3 separate regions of the Homo sapiens genome follow, and all the other regions are linked to region 1. Evidence: fine-mapped expression QTL. A gene starts in region 1. Each other region holds a variant in brackets. All regions are shown on one strand. Distances are between the middles of the regions. Region 1 holds the start of KCNQ2 (potassium voltage-gated channel subfamily Q member 2). Region 2 overlaps KCNQ2 (potassium voltage-gated channel subfamily Q member 2). Region 3 overlaps LOC124904949 (a long non-coding RNA gene).

Region 1 (4,787 bases):
TGCCGAGGGGCACCGGATAGTCTGGGGCTTCCCCCCACAGGATGAGGGGCCCCAGCCCTGCAGGGTTTACATTTTGAGCTACGGCTGCTCCCTCGGGTCTTCTGGTGAGTGGGAAAGACCAGCGGCACCAGCCAGCGTGTGCAGGGAGATGCCACGGTGCTCTCTTCCTTCTGCATACTGAAGTCCTCTCCCTCCCCTGAAAGCACCAGGCTGGTGCCTCCTCCCTTAACAATCGAGAGAAACCGCAGCCGCTTGGGGCAAGCCCACTTCATGCTGGTAATCACAGCCAATGCGTGGGCACAGAGGCAGGGAGGCGGGGATCCAGAAAGTACCCCTGGATGTGCACAAGCTTGTGTAAGTTGCCGTCTATCCCCAACGTCCTGGATAACGTACAGGTTAGCATTCTGCCTGCACCGACCCTTCTGTATTCAGCCTAGTTAAAAACAAAACAACAACAACAAAAACAGGCCCCGTGGCCACTAGCTCTGGAAACCAAAGGGCAAACACAACTCAAGAGCTCACTCTGCACCAGGGTTAGGGCTGTTTTATGAGCAGGTCACCTGCGAGGACGGCGCCAGCGATTCAGCAGAGGGCCTTTCTCTGGGTAGAACCCATGGTGCCAGGCGAACGTGCAAACAGGCTGGATGTAGTCAGAGACGCACTCGAAGATGACACCCCTCCTGGATGTGCAGAGGAAGGCCCAGTGGCGGGGCACCTCACAGGGCGGGCAGCACTGAGCCGCAGGGGTCCCTTGGTCTCCCAGCAGCAGCTCCAGAGGGACCCCTCCCAGGACACATGGCTGCCGGCAGGGGGGAGGCCACCTCCGCGCACTTGCCCCCAAGGAAACACCGTCCCATCTGTGTCCAGGAGGCACAGATCTGCCTCCTTTGTCCCGAGGTGTGGCACTGGGCTTCCTGCTGGCCTGTCTGCTGCCCTGGGGCCACCCTCCAGTCCCTGCCCCTGCCACAGGCCCCTTCTGGGGTCTGCATAACTAAGTCCAGGCCCCTTGGGGGGCTTCAAGGCCCTCTAGGAGTGACTCTCTCCCATCCCCCACCCCATGGCCCTTGCTCCTCTTCTTGCCTCCCGGCCTCTGTGGCCACCCCCTTTCCCCTGGGCTGCTTTCCTTGCAGGGTGCCTCCAGCCTCCACAGACCCTCCCTGCACACACCCTGGGGTCTAGGGGGTCCTACTGCCTGGGCAACCCTGACACCGAGAGCATGAGGTCACCATGGGCTGAGCCCTAACAGAGTCTTGGGGAGAGCCCCTACCCCCATCCCTTCCCGGAGGCGTCCACTCCCAGGGCCCAGCTGAGAAGACTCCAGTCCTGCTCAGGCGGCTGGGCACCGCTCTGGGACCCCAGGAGCGCTGGGGCCACCAGGCAGGTCCACTTGGTTAGTACTACCGGACTCAAAGGTGACCGCAGGGTCAGTGTGCACATGGCCGGGGGATTGGGCAGGCTCAGCCCAGAGCTCTGGTCCCGCGGGCCTTGGTCCCTTCTGCCTCCCCCTCCTCTCCCCCTGCCCTCCCCTCCCCCTCCCCCACTCCCCCTCCTCTCCCCCCTCCCCTCCCCCTCCACTCCTGTCTCCCCCCTCCACTCCTGTCTCCCCTCTCCCCGTCCCCGCCACTCTCCTCCCCTCCCATTCCCCTCTCCTCCCCTCCCCCTCCCCTCCTGTCTCCCCTCTCCCCGTCCCCTCTCCCTCCCCTCCCCTCCCTTTCCCTCTTCTCTCCTCCCCTCTCCTCTCCTTCCCCCCTCCCCTCCCCTCCCCGTCCCTCCCTCTCCCCTCCCTTCCCCTCCCTCTCTTCTCCTCCCCTCTCCTTCGACTGGCGTCGCGGGGGTTAACGCGGGGCGGGGCGAGGCGGCGGGCGGAGCCGGCGCGGCCGCGGGCCAGGCGCCGAGGTGCGCGCGGAGCGAGGTGGCCGCAGCGTCTCCGCGCGCGGCCCAAGCCCGGCAGGAGTGCGGAACCGCCGCCTCGGCCATGCGGCTCCCGGCCGGGGGGCCTGGGCTGGGGCCCGCGCCGCCCCCCGCGCTCCGCCCCCGCTGAGCCTGAGCCCGACCCGGGGCGCCTCCCGCCAGGCACCATGGTGCAGAAGTCGCGCAACGGCGGCGTATACCCCGGCCCGAGCGGGGAGAAGAAGCTGAAGGTGGGCTTCGTGGGGCTGGACCCCGGCGCGCCCGACTCCACCCGGGACGGGGCGCTGCTGATCGCCGGCTCCGAGGCCCCCAAGCGCGGCAGCATCCTCAGCAAACCTCGCGCGGGCGGCGCGGGCGCCGGGAAGCCCCCCAAGCGCAACGCCTTCTACCGCAAGCTGCAGAATTTCCTCTACAACGTGCTGGAGCGGCCGCGCGGCTGGGCGTTCATCTACCACGCCTACGTGTGAGTGGCCGGCGGGGCCCCCGTGGCGACCCCCATGGCGACCCCCATCGGCGACCCCATCGGCGACCCCGGCCAGGCTGGCTGCGGCGGGTTTGGCTCCCTGCCCCTGGGTCTGGGTCCGGGGCCGGCGCTCCCCGGCGGGAGTGCTGGGCCGAGACCGGAGAGCGATTGTACAGCGCGCGGGCAGGAAGGATTCCGGGGTCGGGGCCGCTCAGGTCGGGGTGGGGGCTCCAGGCCCGCAGGACAGAGACGTGCGGCCGCCCCAGCCCCCTCCTCAGCCTGGGAGGCCCCTCCCCGCGGCCTCTGCGCCGAACAAAGGGCCGGCCGGGGAGGGACGGCGGCAGCGCTGGGTCTGGACTCTCCGGGACTCTCGGGGACCCGCGGGGCTGGGGCCGCCCGACCAAGCGAGGGCGGGGGGGAGGGGTCTGGCCTGTCCTCCGCCATCCTCCCGAGCCGCTCTCCCTCAGACTAGGGTGAGCTTCTGGGTTCCTGAGATGGGGGAGGGGCCCTCCCATGACCCCCCCACCCCAGCCCGGGCTGAGCGCAGCTGTCTGTCCTGCCCCCTCGGCGCCGACGCCCCTCCCTGGCCCCGCGAACCCCCTCAGCTCCTGCGCTCAGCTCCTGCGCTGTCCCATCTCTGCAGCCGCCGGCCGCCCCCGTGCACATCCCGGGCTCAGGACCCCTCCTTGGCAGAGCGAGGCCCGGGGGAGGGGCTGCGGCAGACCTGGGACCCCCAGCCCTGGGCCTGGAAGGGGCTGTCCCCTCTTCCCGGGCGAGGCTCAGGGAACGGCTGCCTCCTGGGGCAGGGCTGGCGGGGGGCGGCCGAAGCCTGCGTCCGTGTGCACCTGGGTGTTCGCATGTGGAATTGCACGGCCCGCTGCGTGTGCGGCCTGTGCGGCCGGTGTGCACAGCCTCCCCGCGCCAGGGCGCTTGCTCTCCCATCCCAGCTGAACAAGGGACCCGCTGAGCTCCGGGACCGGCCATTTTGTGTGAGAGGCATTTTGGGATGGGAGTGAGGGGCAGACTGGTCACAAGCTGGTCGGGCGCCCACCTGGGCCGAGAGGGGTGTGTGCCCCACGAGTGTGCCCCAGCCTGCGTGTGGCCTTGAGTGTGCCCTTAGCAGACCCTCCGTGGACTGTGATATGAGAGGGTTCTGGGGTAGGGAGAAGATCCCAGAGGGAAATGCCAGGCCGCTTACAGGGAGGGTGTCTCCGTGGAGGGCCCCTGGGCACCCAGCCTGGGACTCCCCAAGCAGAAGCTTCTCCGACCTCCTGGGTCCTGGAAGCCCTGTGGCCCCCAGGAGGTGAGTCTAGCTTTTCCAGTCCAGGGTTCATTCCCGAATCCCCAGATGAGCTTCTGTGTTCTCAGGAATGGCCTCCCCTGATGGCCCCCACCTGGCTGGGGGCCAAAGGGGCTCTTGGTGGGCCGGTACTGGTCAGCCAGGTCCCTGCCCAAGGTGACTCCCCGGAGGAGGGTAGGATAGAACCCACCCCCACAACCCTCCTGCCCTGACAGCCTGGCCAGCGCCCCGCTCTGCGTCTGACCCAGGGTTGGTTCTGCTTTGAGTCCATGATCCAAGGGCCCAGCGTGGCTGTTCCTGAGGTTTCCCGTTGGGTCAGCAGCTCTCCGCATGGCCGCCCCCTGCCTGGGCCTGCGTGGGTCAGCCCCTCTGTCTCTCCTTCCTGTCTCTGCCTCCTGAGAGCAGCAGTCCAGAACTGGGGCAAAGCATGGGGACACTTGCACATGTGGGGTCTGAGCCGTCTCTTCCTGACCACCCCCAGTCCGGACGGGCCCCCTCTAAGATAGAGCAGCAGCATGCGGGGGCTTCAGGCGAGACCCTCAACGTCTGAACAGCCCCGCCTTCCAGCCTGCACTAGGCCTCTCCTCAGCTCCTTTGCTGTGGGCACGGAGCTCCCTGAACCTCCCTGAGCTCCCAGGCTCTCCTCAGCTCCTTTGCTGTGGGCAGGGGTGGCTTGGACTCAGGGAGGCGGCCCCTTTGGGAGGGGGATTTTTTCTAAGCGGCGGGGCTGGAGAGCAGGGTTTCTGGTCCTGCCTCGGGTTGGACACTGGGGGCTGGTCTCAGAACCTCTGCAAACCTCAGTTTTCCGTCGGTAACGTCGGCACAGCTGCTTCTCAACCCAGGGCTTTGTGAACACCACTGCTGGGGGGCATCACACTCTTCCAGGCCGGCCCAGTGCCCTCTGTGAAAGGGGATGTGGCTCAGCACTGCTGGTGCAGCTCACCGCCCGGCTCCCAGACCCCTGGTGTGGTGTTTGCTGCTGTCCCCGTGGCCCAGCCCATCCTTGGAGTGCAGCCCCCACCTCCACTTGGGAGGCCTGATGGCCCCATGTCCTCTGGCCCGGCATGGACTGGCCCGTGTGGCGTGTTAGGCAGCATTTGGTCTGTTTGTTCA
Region 2 (4,285 bases), 27 kb after region 1:
GGAGGGGGCAGCTGCGCATAGAGGGGGCAGCTGCCACTGTGGAGTTCAGGGTCCCGGGAGGTGGCTATGGGGGTGCCCTCTGGCCCGAGCGAGCTCTGGTGGGGTGGGTGGGGAGTGGGGTCCTGCGTTCTGGAGACGCGGCCATGCTGGTGCCCTGCTGCGGCCTGGTGGGGAGTGGGGTCCTGAGTTCTGGAGACACAGCCATGCTGCTGCCCTGCTGCGGCCTGTCTGAGAGCGCGCGTTCCCTGCCCCCAGGTTCCTCCTGGTTTTCTCCTGCCTCGTGCTGTCTGTGTTTTCCACCATCAAGGAGTATGAGAAGAGCTCGGAGGGGGCCCTCTACATCCTGGTGAGCCCCGAGGGAGGGCGGGGGCTGGAAGTGCCCAGGAAGGAGCTGGAGCTGCCTGGGCGTCTGTCTTCCGTTCCTGTTACTACAGGGCCTCTGACGCCCCCAGCCCCAGCTCTGGCCATGTCTTTGTGCCCTGTCAGTTCCCATCTGCCCCCAGCCCCACAGCCCGGGCTATGCCCCAGCCCCACCCTGGCTGTAACTCAGCCCTCACCTCACCCCTCCTGGTGACCTCACAGTGGCTGACAGCCCCGCCTCCATCGCCCCCACCCTGGGTGGGCCACCCTCCCTTTCCCATCCCCACTTTATCTCTGGAGCCGGAGATGTGGGGCGTCCCCAGCAGACGGCAGACGTGGGCGTCGGGGTGGGGGCTGTGACGCTTGCAGCAACCCTGTGCCAGGGCAGGGTGGGCGCCATGGCAACGGGAGTGCAGTTCCTGTGTTGCTGTTGGTAACGGGGTGGGGGGCCCTCAAGGAGACTGGTCCCCATCCAAATGCACCTCCCTCTACTGCCCGCCCTGCTCCTCTGTTCTGGGGCTTCCCAAGGTCTGGGTGGAGACTGTGGCCCCCTTTGCAGTTACCTGGGGCCTTCCCTCAGCTCAGCCCTGCTGTGCACCCCCCAACTCAAGGCAGGTCCCCCACTGGCTCAGACAGGGTCCCCCAGCTCAGACAGGGGCCCCCAACTCAGATAGAGTCCCCCAGCTTGGACAGGGCAGCTCCCCAACCAGCTCAGACAGGGTCCCCCAGCTCAGACAGGGTCCCCCAGCTCAGACAGGGTCCCCCAGCTCAGACAGGGCCTCCCAGCTCAGACAGGGTCCCCCAGCTCAGACAGGGTCCCCCAGCTCAGACAGGGCCTCCCAGCTCAGACAGGGTCCCCCAGCTCAGACAGGGTCCCCCAGCTCAGACAGGGCCTCCCAGCTCAGACAGGGTCCCCCAGCTCAGACAGGGCCTCCCAGCTCAGACAGGGTCCCCCAGCTCAGACAGGGTCCCCCAGCTCAGACAGGGCCTCCCAGCTCAGACAGGGCCTCCCAGCTCAGACAGGGTTCCCTAGCCCAGATAGAACCCCCTAGCTCAGACAGGGCAGCCCTGCCAGCTCAGACATGGTCCCCTAGCCCAGATAGAGTCCCCAGCTCAGACAGGGAGGTGGGGAGGGTGGCCCCATGGTGTTCATGCTCAGCTGTGTTCCCGGATGCAGGGTCTCCAGAGGGCCCAACCCTTCCTGCCCAGAGGCTGGAGAGGGGTGGGGG[G/CCCTTTGGGGG]GTCAGCTTGCAGTTTCCTTTGGGGGCCTCCTGCCCTGTGGCTTGGTCCCTGGGCCAGAACTGCTCCTGTGGGTGTCCAGGCTGGGCCCCCAGGCCCTCCCCCAGGCCTCAAGGTGGCCTCAGCTTTCCTCCCCTGCAGGAAATCGTGACTATCGTGGTGTTTGGCGTGGAGTACTTCGTGCGGATCTGGGCCGCAGGCTGCTGCTGCCGGTACCGTGGCTGGAGGGGGCGGCTCAAGTTTGCCCGGAAACCGTTCTGTGTGATTGGTGAGGCCTGGTGGGGGTGGTATTGCTAGAATCAGGGCCAGGCACCCAGGGACGGACTCAGCCCTGGGGGGAGCTGGGGCGTCTGCGTGGGCCAGAGAGGCTGGGCAGGACTGGCTCCTTCTGGAAGTTTCTTTTCACCTGCTGACTTGGAGTCAGAGGCTGTGGTTAACTCTGCCTAAATGTCAGGAAGAGGAATGTGGCGCTGGGCTGCCCATCCTGGGCCCCACAGGCAGGGTGGACGATAGTAATGTCCTTCCTGGGGCCTGACAGAGCCCACACCAGGCGCTGGGCATACACCTTCCCGCCCCTCTGCACATCCTCCTGGAACGCGGGGTGGGGAGTTTTCTCCAAGGGGGTGCGGGGAGCGGCCCAGCAGCTCACCAGCTCCACGCCCGCTTTGTAGACATCATGGTGCTCATCGCCTCCATTGCGGTGCTGGCCGCCGGCTCCCAGGGCAACGTCTTTGCCACATCTGCGCTCCGGAGCCTGCGCTTCCTGCAGATTCTGCGGATGATCCGCATGGACCGGCGGGGAGGCACCTGGAAGCTGCTGGGCTCTGTGGTCTATGCCCACAGCAAGGTGAGTCACGGCCCCAAGGCTGGCGGTGGGCGCCCCCAGCCAGCGAGAGTCCTGGCCCAGACCGGGCCCCACCCCTGCCTGGGGTTTGCTTCAAGAGCCCTGGGTGGAGGGATGGAGTCAGTGGTGGCTCTGGCTGGAGCCCATCAGGTGTGAACGAGCCTCCCTCCCCTTTCTTCTCGGTGCTTCTTCTCGTGACTTGGGCCATCTTTGTCATCTGTCTCCAGAAAGCTGCTTTTTCGAAAGGCCAGGCCAGGCCATTTTGGCCCCTGCCACCCCCACCTTCCTGCCGCGAACCCTTGGCTCTGTGGTTGGGTGTCTTCTTTCCTGGGTTTTTAGTGCCTGGATCAATACAAAGTGCTAGTCACCTGCCTGGTGGTTGTTTAAGCTGCGGCTTGCGGCGGCCGCTGTCCGGGGGACCCAGAGGGTGGCTGTGGCCACACATGCTGAGTTCCAGGGGCCCCAGGCCCCCCAGTGACCGAGACCCCATCCTGCCAGACTGTGCTGTCCCTCCACCTTGCTCACGGGTGGGCTCATTTGCTCAAATGGCCCCCTCCCCATTTTCTTCCCTCTTGAGCCCTGGCAGGGTGGTGGCTTTGTCTGCAGAATGGGCAGGGGTCAGCCCCCGGTGGCCCCTCTCCCTCCCTGGACGCTGTGGGGGTTGAGTGCTGACTGCAGTGGGCACCCTTTTCACATCTGTGCCCGGAGGCTCAGGGAGGTTGGGGGAGGGTCTCAACAGTCCCAAGATTCTCCAGCCCTGCTGGCCGCCAGAATAGACGCTACTGACCCTGGAGGGCACGGTGGGCTGGCCGTGCGAGCCACTGTTGCCCAGGCCAGGAGGCTCAGGGGAATGGGCTGCCGTAGCTAAGATGGTGAAGCCAGCGGCGCCTCCTGGTTCCCCTGTGCCAGCCCTGCCACCGACCCTGGCGTGGAGCCTCTGCTGGCCTCAGGAGACGGGTCCATCCAGCCCCTATATCCCTGGAGACAGAGCCCAAAGTGGGCTGACTGGCGAGGCTGCAGTGCTCCTGGAGGCAGGTGGCGGGTGGTGATGGTGGTGAGGGTGATGGTGGTGATGGTGGTAGTGATGGTGGTGGTGGTGGTGATGGTCATGATGGTCATGGTGGTGGTGGTGGTGATGGTGATGGTGGTGATCGTGGTGGTGGTGATGGTGATGGTGGTGGTGATGATGGTGGTGATGGTGGTGATGGTGATGGTGGTGGTGATGGTGATGGTGATGATGGTGGTGATGGTGATGGTGGTGATGGTGATGGTGGTGGTGATGATGGTGGTGATGATGGTGATGGTGGTGGTGGTGGTGATGGTGGTGATGGTGATGGTGGTGGTGGTGATGATGGTGATGGTGGTGGTGATGATGGTGATGGTGATGGTGGTGATGATGGTGGCGATGGTGATGTGATGGTGGTGATGGTGATGGTGGTGATCATGGTGGTGGTGGTGATGGTGGTGGTGGTGGTGATGGTGATGGTGATGTGATGGTGGTGGCGCCGGTGATGGTGGTGGTGATGATGGTGGTGGTGGTGATAGTGGTGGTGGTGATGGTGATGGTGGTGATAATGGTGGTGGTGGTGATAATGGTGATGGTGATGCTGATGATGGTGATGGTGGTGGTGATGTGATGGTGGTGGTGATGGTGATGGTGGTGATGGTGATGGTAATGGTGGTGATGGTGGTGGTGGTGGTGATGGTGATGATGGTGATGGTGGTGGTGATGGTGATGGTGGTGATGGTGATGGTGGTGGTGATGGTGGTGATGGTGGTGGTGATAATGGTGATGGTGATGGTGGTGGTGATGGTGATGGTGGTGGTGGTGATGGTGATGGTGATGGTGGTGGT
Region 3 (4,787 bases), 830 kb after region 1:
TGAGCACAGGTAGCCCATCTTCTGGTGATGATGCTGGAGAAGCAATTCAAATGTCAGAAGCAGGACTGGACTCTGTTTCCAAAACTCACGTCTGGATTCTACCCCCTGAAAACATTATTTACACAATGTTTTTCCTTTAAACAATTCACACATTTGATTAAAAGGGTAAGTTTATTTTTTAAAAAGTCAGTGTCAATTACCACAAAGAGGTCACCATAAAAATAGATAAAAAGAAACAAAATGGCATTAAATTCTAGCCAAATATTGCTGCCTGTGGAGGGCTCCCGGCCTGAGACCCGCCTCAGACCCCACCAGGCATTCTTTGGGATTCCTGCATAGGCACCATTGGAAAGGTAAATCCAGAGCAAACATTTCAGGTACATTCGTGCAAAATGCAGGCCCTCAGTCCTGTCCTCAAAGGCAAATGCTGGTGCCCAGGCTCCTCAAGAGGCCCCTAGGAGCACCAGGAGGCCTTGACCCAGGTGAAGGGTCCTGCCGCAGGCCATCAAGGGGGTCTGCAGGTCTGGCCCAACTCCAGGCCCTGCGTGGTGGGGTCCATCTGCACCAGCTTTCGGGAGCCGACTGTGTCCTTACTCTTGCCCTAGAGGACTCGGGGGTCAGCTACAGAGCACAGCAGTGTCTTGGAACAAGGGCAGCCTGATTATGTGCCCTGGAACATTCTGAACTCAATAAGTTCTATCCCAGCAGGGCTTTTTTTCTTTCTTTTCTTTTTTTTTTTTCTTTTTTGAGAGGAAATAATTAAAAGAAAAAGAAAGCGAGAACCCCCTGGCTCCCCTGTGGCCTTGCAGGGTCGTACTGCTGCCTGTCCGGGCGGCTTCAGGAGGCTCGGAACAGATGCTGCACATTTGTGGGCCACTTACTGTTCTCTGACATCATCTTTAGAGGCACCTCAAAGAGCTGAAATGTGACAGCCTGTATTTCCACCTCCCTCTCTCTTTATGGACATTGTCACTTGGAGGAAAATCGATCTAAAGATCAGAAGAGAAGTGTAGAGAGAGAAGAGAGAGAAACGCTGTCAGGTCAAGGGGCAGGTTAATGGCCAACCCAGAAACAGCGTGGGATCCCGGTGCCTCTGCCTGGAGGGTCCAGCCTGGAACACACATCATTCCTAGCTTTGACCAGGAATGGTATCCAAAAAATGACCTCACTTAGCTATTAGTACTTGATTGGGATAATACTTAAAATCCTGCTAATATTTCTGTGGTTGCTTCCATTCTGTAGTCATAGTTCATTTCTATTTTCTATGAATTTGGCGTATGTCTTAGCCAACTCATTTGAAACTGCCTGTCCTTCCTTGACTTATAAAAAAATGGCCATTTCAGCTTCGTGATAATGGGCAAGTCTCAGAAATGATGAAAACATCATTTAATTGTTTCATTATTTCAAAGTCTCAGGCTGTGGCCATGTGGTGGAGGCTCTAGAGAAAGTTTCTAAAAAATATTTTAAAAGTTACGACTGCACTGTTTTGCATGAGAAAGAGGATTTTGCTAAAGATTGAAGGCGATCGGGCTGCAGGCGAAATGTGGCTTGAAGTCCCCAGCTCCAGAGTGGCACGTTTCAGTCTGTTAAATGCTGTGTTCAGGTGAGGAGTTAGGATCATGGTACAACCCAGATGTGGGCTGGCGGCTGGCACACAGCTTAGCAAAGAAGAGACGCACAAGGCCAGAGTGGCCTTAGGAAAAACTCAGCCTGGAGTTGTCCAAATGTCCGCGATGGAGGAGTTTCATGGGGGAATTAAGATTGTCAGGTTAGGGAAGGGCACAGGTAGCTGGGAGGCTCTTTGGTAGCAAAATTCCATAGAAGATAAAAAGCATGTTCTCTCTTGGAAATCATCAGTCCATCCTGTCGGAGCCCCTTTGGAGCAGGGTGTGGCTGGAGGGCCTGGCTTGCTGGCCACGCCTCAGTCACAGCATTGGCTTTCCTGCGCTTCTGCTTCCTGCTCTTCCCGGTGATCTGCGTCCTGCGGGGCGCACAGCAAGCCCTCCGTGGGACGAAGATCTTCGTCTTCCATCCACGCTGCTTTGCTCACCTGCGACATGACCTGAGGCTCTGGCCCTGCTGAGCTGGGCCCTTGGCCAGTGCTGTACAAACGCCATCCACCATCTGGTGACAGCAGCCTAGCAATTGACCAACAGAGGCCTCCCACTGTCCTCCCTCCTGC[C/T]GCCCTCCCTCTGCATCTCCCAGAGCAGGACGACTCCAGGGAGACAGACTCAATTCAATCTTTTTCTGTTTCAGAGAATCTGTCACCATTAAAAGCAGCTACCAGGGAATCTGATTCCATTGCACCAGGTCTCAGGTCTCAGGTCTCAGGCGTTCTTCCAAAATGCTGGTGGATGGTGGGCTCTCGCCCTGGGATTATAGATGCCCAGATAAACCATATGTAAATAACACTGCATTTAACCCGCCGACAAAGGGTGGCCTTCTTGACGGTGGTGAAGGAAGTTTTGACCCAGGAGAACAGAGGTCGTCATTCACAAGCACTAGGGTCCGGTGAAAGCACAGGCTTCAGCGTCTGGACAGGCAGCTACATGACGGTATCATGTTCTCTTTAGAAGCCACCAACTGATTCCTGTGTGTTCAGAGCCTGCTGTTAGAGATTAGGTGTGGGGTAGAAAAAATTGGAATCTGGACTTCCCTGCCTGGCGAGATGGCCCTGAGCTCTGAGACATGACCTGAGGACACCTGGAGTGCCCTGAGTTCCAGGGGACACATAGCAGCCAAGTGGGGAAGAGGCCACTGAATGCCGGTGGCTCCGTGGCAAAGGCACATGGAGCTGTAGGAAGAGACATGCTGGGGCCCCCAGCACCTGGAGAGCAGCAGCCCTGTCCACACCTGGGGCCTTGGCTGCCCACAGCCTCTCTAGAAGGGTCATCTGAATTTCACTGGTGATCTGCTTGTGAGGTCTTCTGCATACACTCTTACTTACAAAGAGGCAAACGTCTGCCAGCCCAAGGGCTTCTGGAACTGCCTCGGTCTGCCTGGCTCCTGAGCCTCCCCGCGGGTCTGGGGGTGGAGGTGTTCACAGGGTTCACTTGGCTGAGACCTCACATTCTGGAAGGGCCTCGTGTTAGGTGAGTGATTATCTTAGCTTCCAATACAACTGTGCATGCAGTCCGGACCCGCCGAGGCACAGACCCATCAGGTCTTCTGCTAACTCTCATCCCGGCCCACCCAGCATGACTAGCAAGATTATATTGCATTGAGAGTGTTTACAGTAAAAGCGTTAAATGTAATCATTTACCTTGTTGGCGATTGTTTGCAGCCCTCTTTGAGCATTCATTCCCTCATGTTTCATTTGCTGAGACTTTGGCAAATGGAAGTGGGCAGTCCCTGTCCCCATCTCCAGGGCCCTGCCTTGGCACCTTCCCCACCAAGCTGACACCTCTGTGAGCTTCAGAGAAGCTAGAAGCTTTGGAGCTTTGTCCAAGGACATGGACACCCCATTGCAGCCTCACTCACTTGGGGGTGAAAGGAAGGTGACCTGCCCAGCCCTTTCAAAGTTCCCTGACAATGTGCAGAGCTCCCTGGCTGTGTGCAGAGCTCGCTGACCGTGTGCAGAGTTCCTGGCTGTGTGCAGAGATCCCTGATGGTGTGCAGAGTTCCTGGCCGTGTGCAGAGCTGGCTGACCATGTGCAGAGCTCCCTGGACGTGTGCAGAGATCCCTGGCCATGTGCAGAGCTCATTGTTGGGGGAAGTCAGGTGATAGAACCCAGAGGCACAAAAACAGGGATGCCCACAGGTCCCTGAGATTCCTTCTTGGGCGGTGTCTGCTGTCCCCAGGGTCCCGTGACCGTGGAAGGCACCATGACCATGTCCATCTTGTGCCAACCTGCTCTGCCCTGGAACATGTTGCCCAGGGCCTGGGTGGACTGTCAGAGCTAGTGAACGATATTTAAGCCTACACAGGGGCAAGGAATCTTCCAGAACTTTCTGTGTTTAGGTGCCACGCAGTCAGCATCCTGCAGGCAAGCCGGACCCTTTCCCACGTAGGAGACTCACAGAATTTTCATCTTCCCCATCACAAGGTAGAAATGGGCTTTTCTGGCTCACTGAGAGGCCTGGATGTTCTACTTAAACCCCAGGAACGTGGAGCTCTAGAGGAGATTAGAAGAGCCAGCTCAATTTCCTGACCCCAGATGGTTTGTTCCATCTGCAGGAAGGGGGTGGCTCCTGCGTACGGGGCCCAGGGCTGAGTCGGCGGCGCGTGCTGCACCTCCCTGGGGTGCCTTCCTGGGCTCTCTCATCCCCCGGCCACTCCTCTGGCTGGCGCTGGAGCCAGGCCTGCTGGGCCCCTTTGTGCCGTCACCCGTCACAGAGCCTCGATTCCCCCAGACATGCTCCCCGCAAATCCTTCCAGACGCTCTAGCCAAGCGGCTGAGGTTGTCAGAAAACCTGGGCACTCCCAGCGTCTGTGGGGCCACCTCCCCTCCCTACCCGCACTGCCCTCCCCTCCTCCGCTGCCCTCCTGGGCAGACGCCCACCCCGGCCCCTGAAGAGGCAGCCACATCCCCCTTTCCTTCCCAGGGCTTATCCTGTTCCCTGTCTTTCCATCCAAGCCCCCACACCAGGTCCCCCGTCCTAAAATGCCGTGAATTCAGTCTGTTCGCTCCATTCGCTCTGCTCCACTGAGGCACCCCTGGGAGAGCAGCTTCCTCTGGAAAAAGTGTCCCCTGCTTCTCAAGTCCTCACCCCACCGTCACCTACTCCGCCTCGGCAGCCTTCAGGGCAGGCCTAGCCCCGGCCACACCCTGGCTTCTGTGGCCGTC

The links. PIP is the estimated chance that this variant, and not a neighbour inherited with it, causes the effect.
Region 2: its variant is fine-mapped to the expression of KCNQ2 in left ventricle (GTEx, PIP above 0.99).
Region 3: its variant is fine-mapped to the expression of KCNQ2 in left ventricle (GTEx, PIP 0.96).

Annotation. Positions count from the first base shown.
Region 1 is chr20:63,469,755-63,474,541 of GRCh38, reverse strand. It overlaps KCNQ2 (potassium voltage-gated channel subfamily Q member 2), which reads left to right and starts at 1,887. Exons shown (of 17, transcript NM_172107.4): 1 at 1,887-2,374. The coding sequence starts at 2,079. RefSeq lists an enhancer at 4,058-4,787.
Region 2 is chr20:63,442,808-63,447,092 of GRCh38, reverse strand. KCNQ2 (potassium voltage-gated channel subfamily Q member 2) reads left to right here. Exons shown (of 17, transcript NM_172107.4): 2 at 256-346; 3 at 1,729-1,855; 4 at 2,259-2,434. Among named protein-coding and RNA genes, the nearest start is that of KCNQ2-AS1, 3.5 kb to the left of the region's middle. The variant G/CCCTTTGGGGG (reference allele first, on the strand shown) is at 1,590.
Region 3 is chr20:62,636,112-62,640,898 of GRCh38, reverse strand. It overlaps LOC124904949 (a long non-coding RNA gene), which reads left to right. Exons shown (of 2, transcript XR_007067711.1): 2 at 1-3,254. Among named protein-coding and RNA genes, the nearest start is that of SLCO4A1, 4.0 kb to the left of the region's middle. RefSeq lists an enhancer at 4,403-4,787. The variant C/T (reference allele first, on the strand shown) is at 2,183.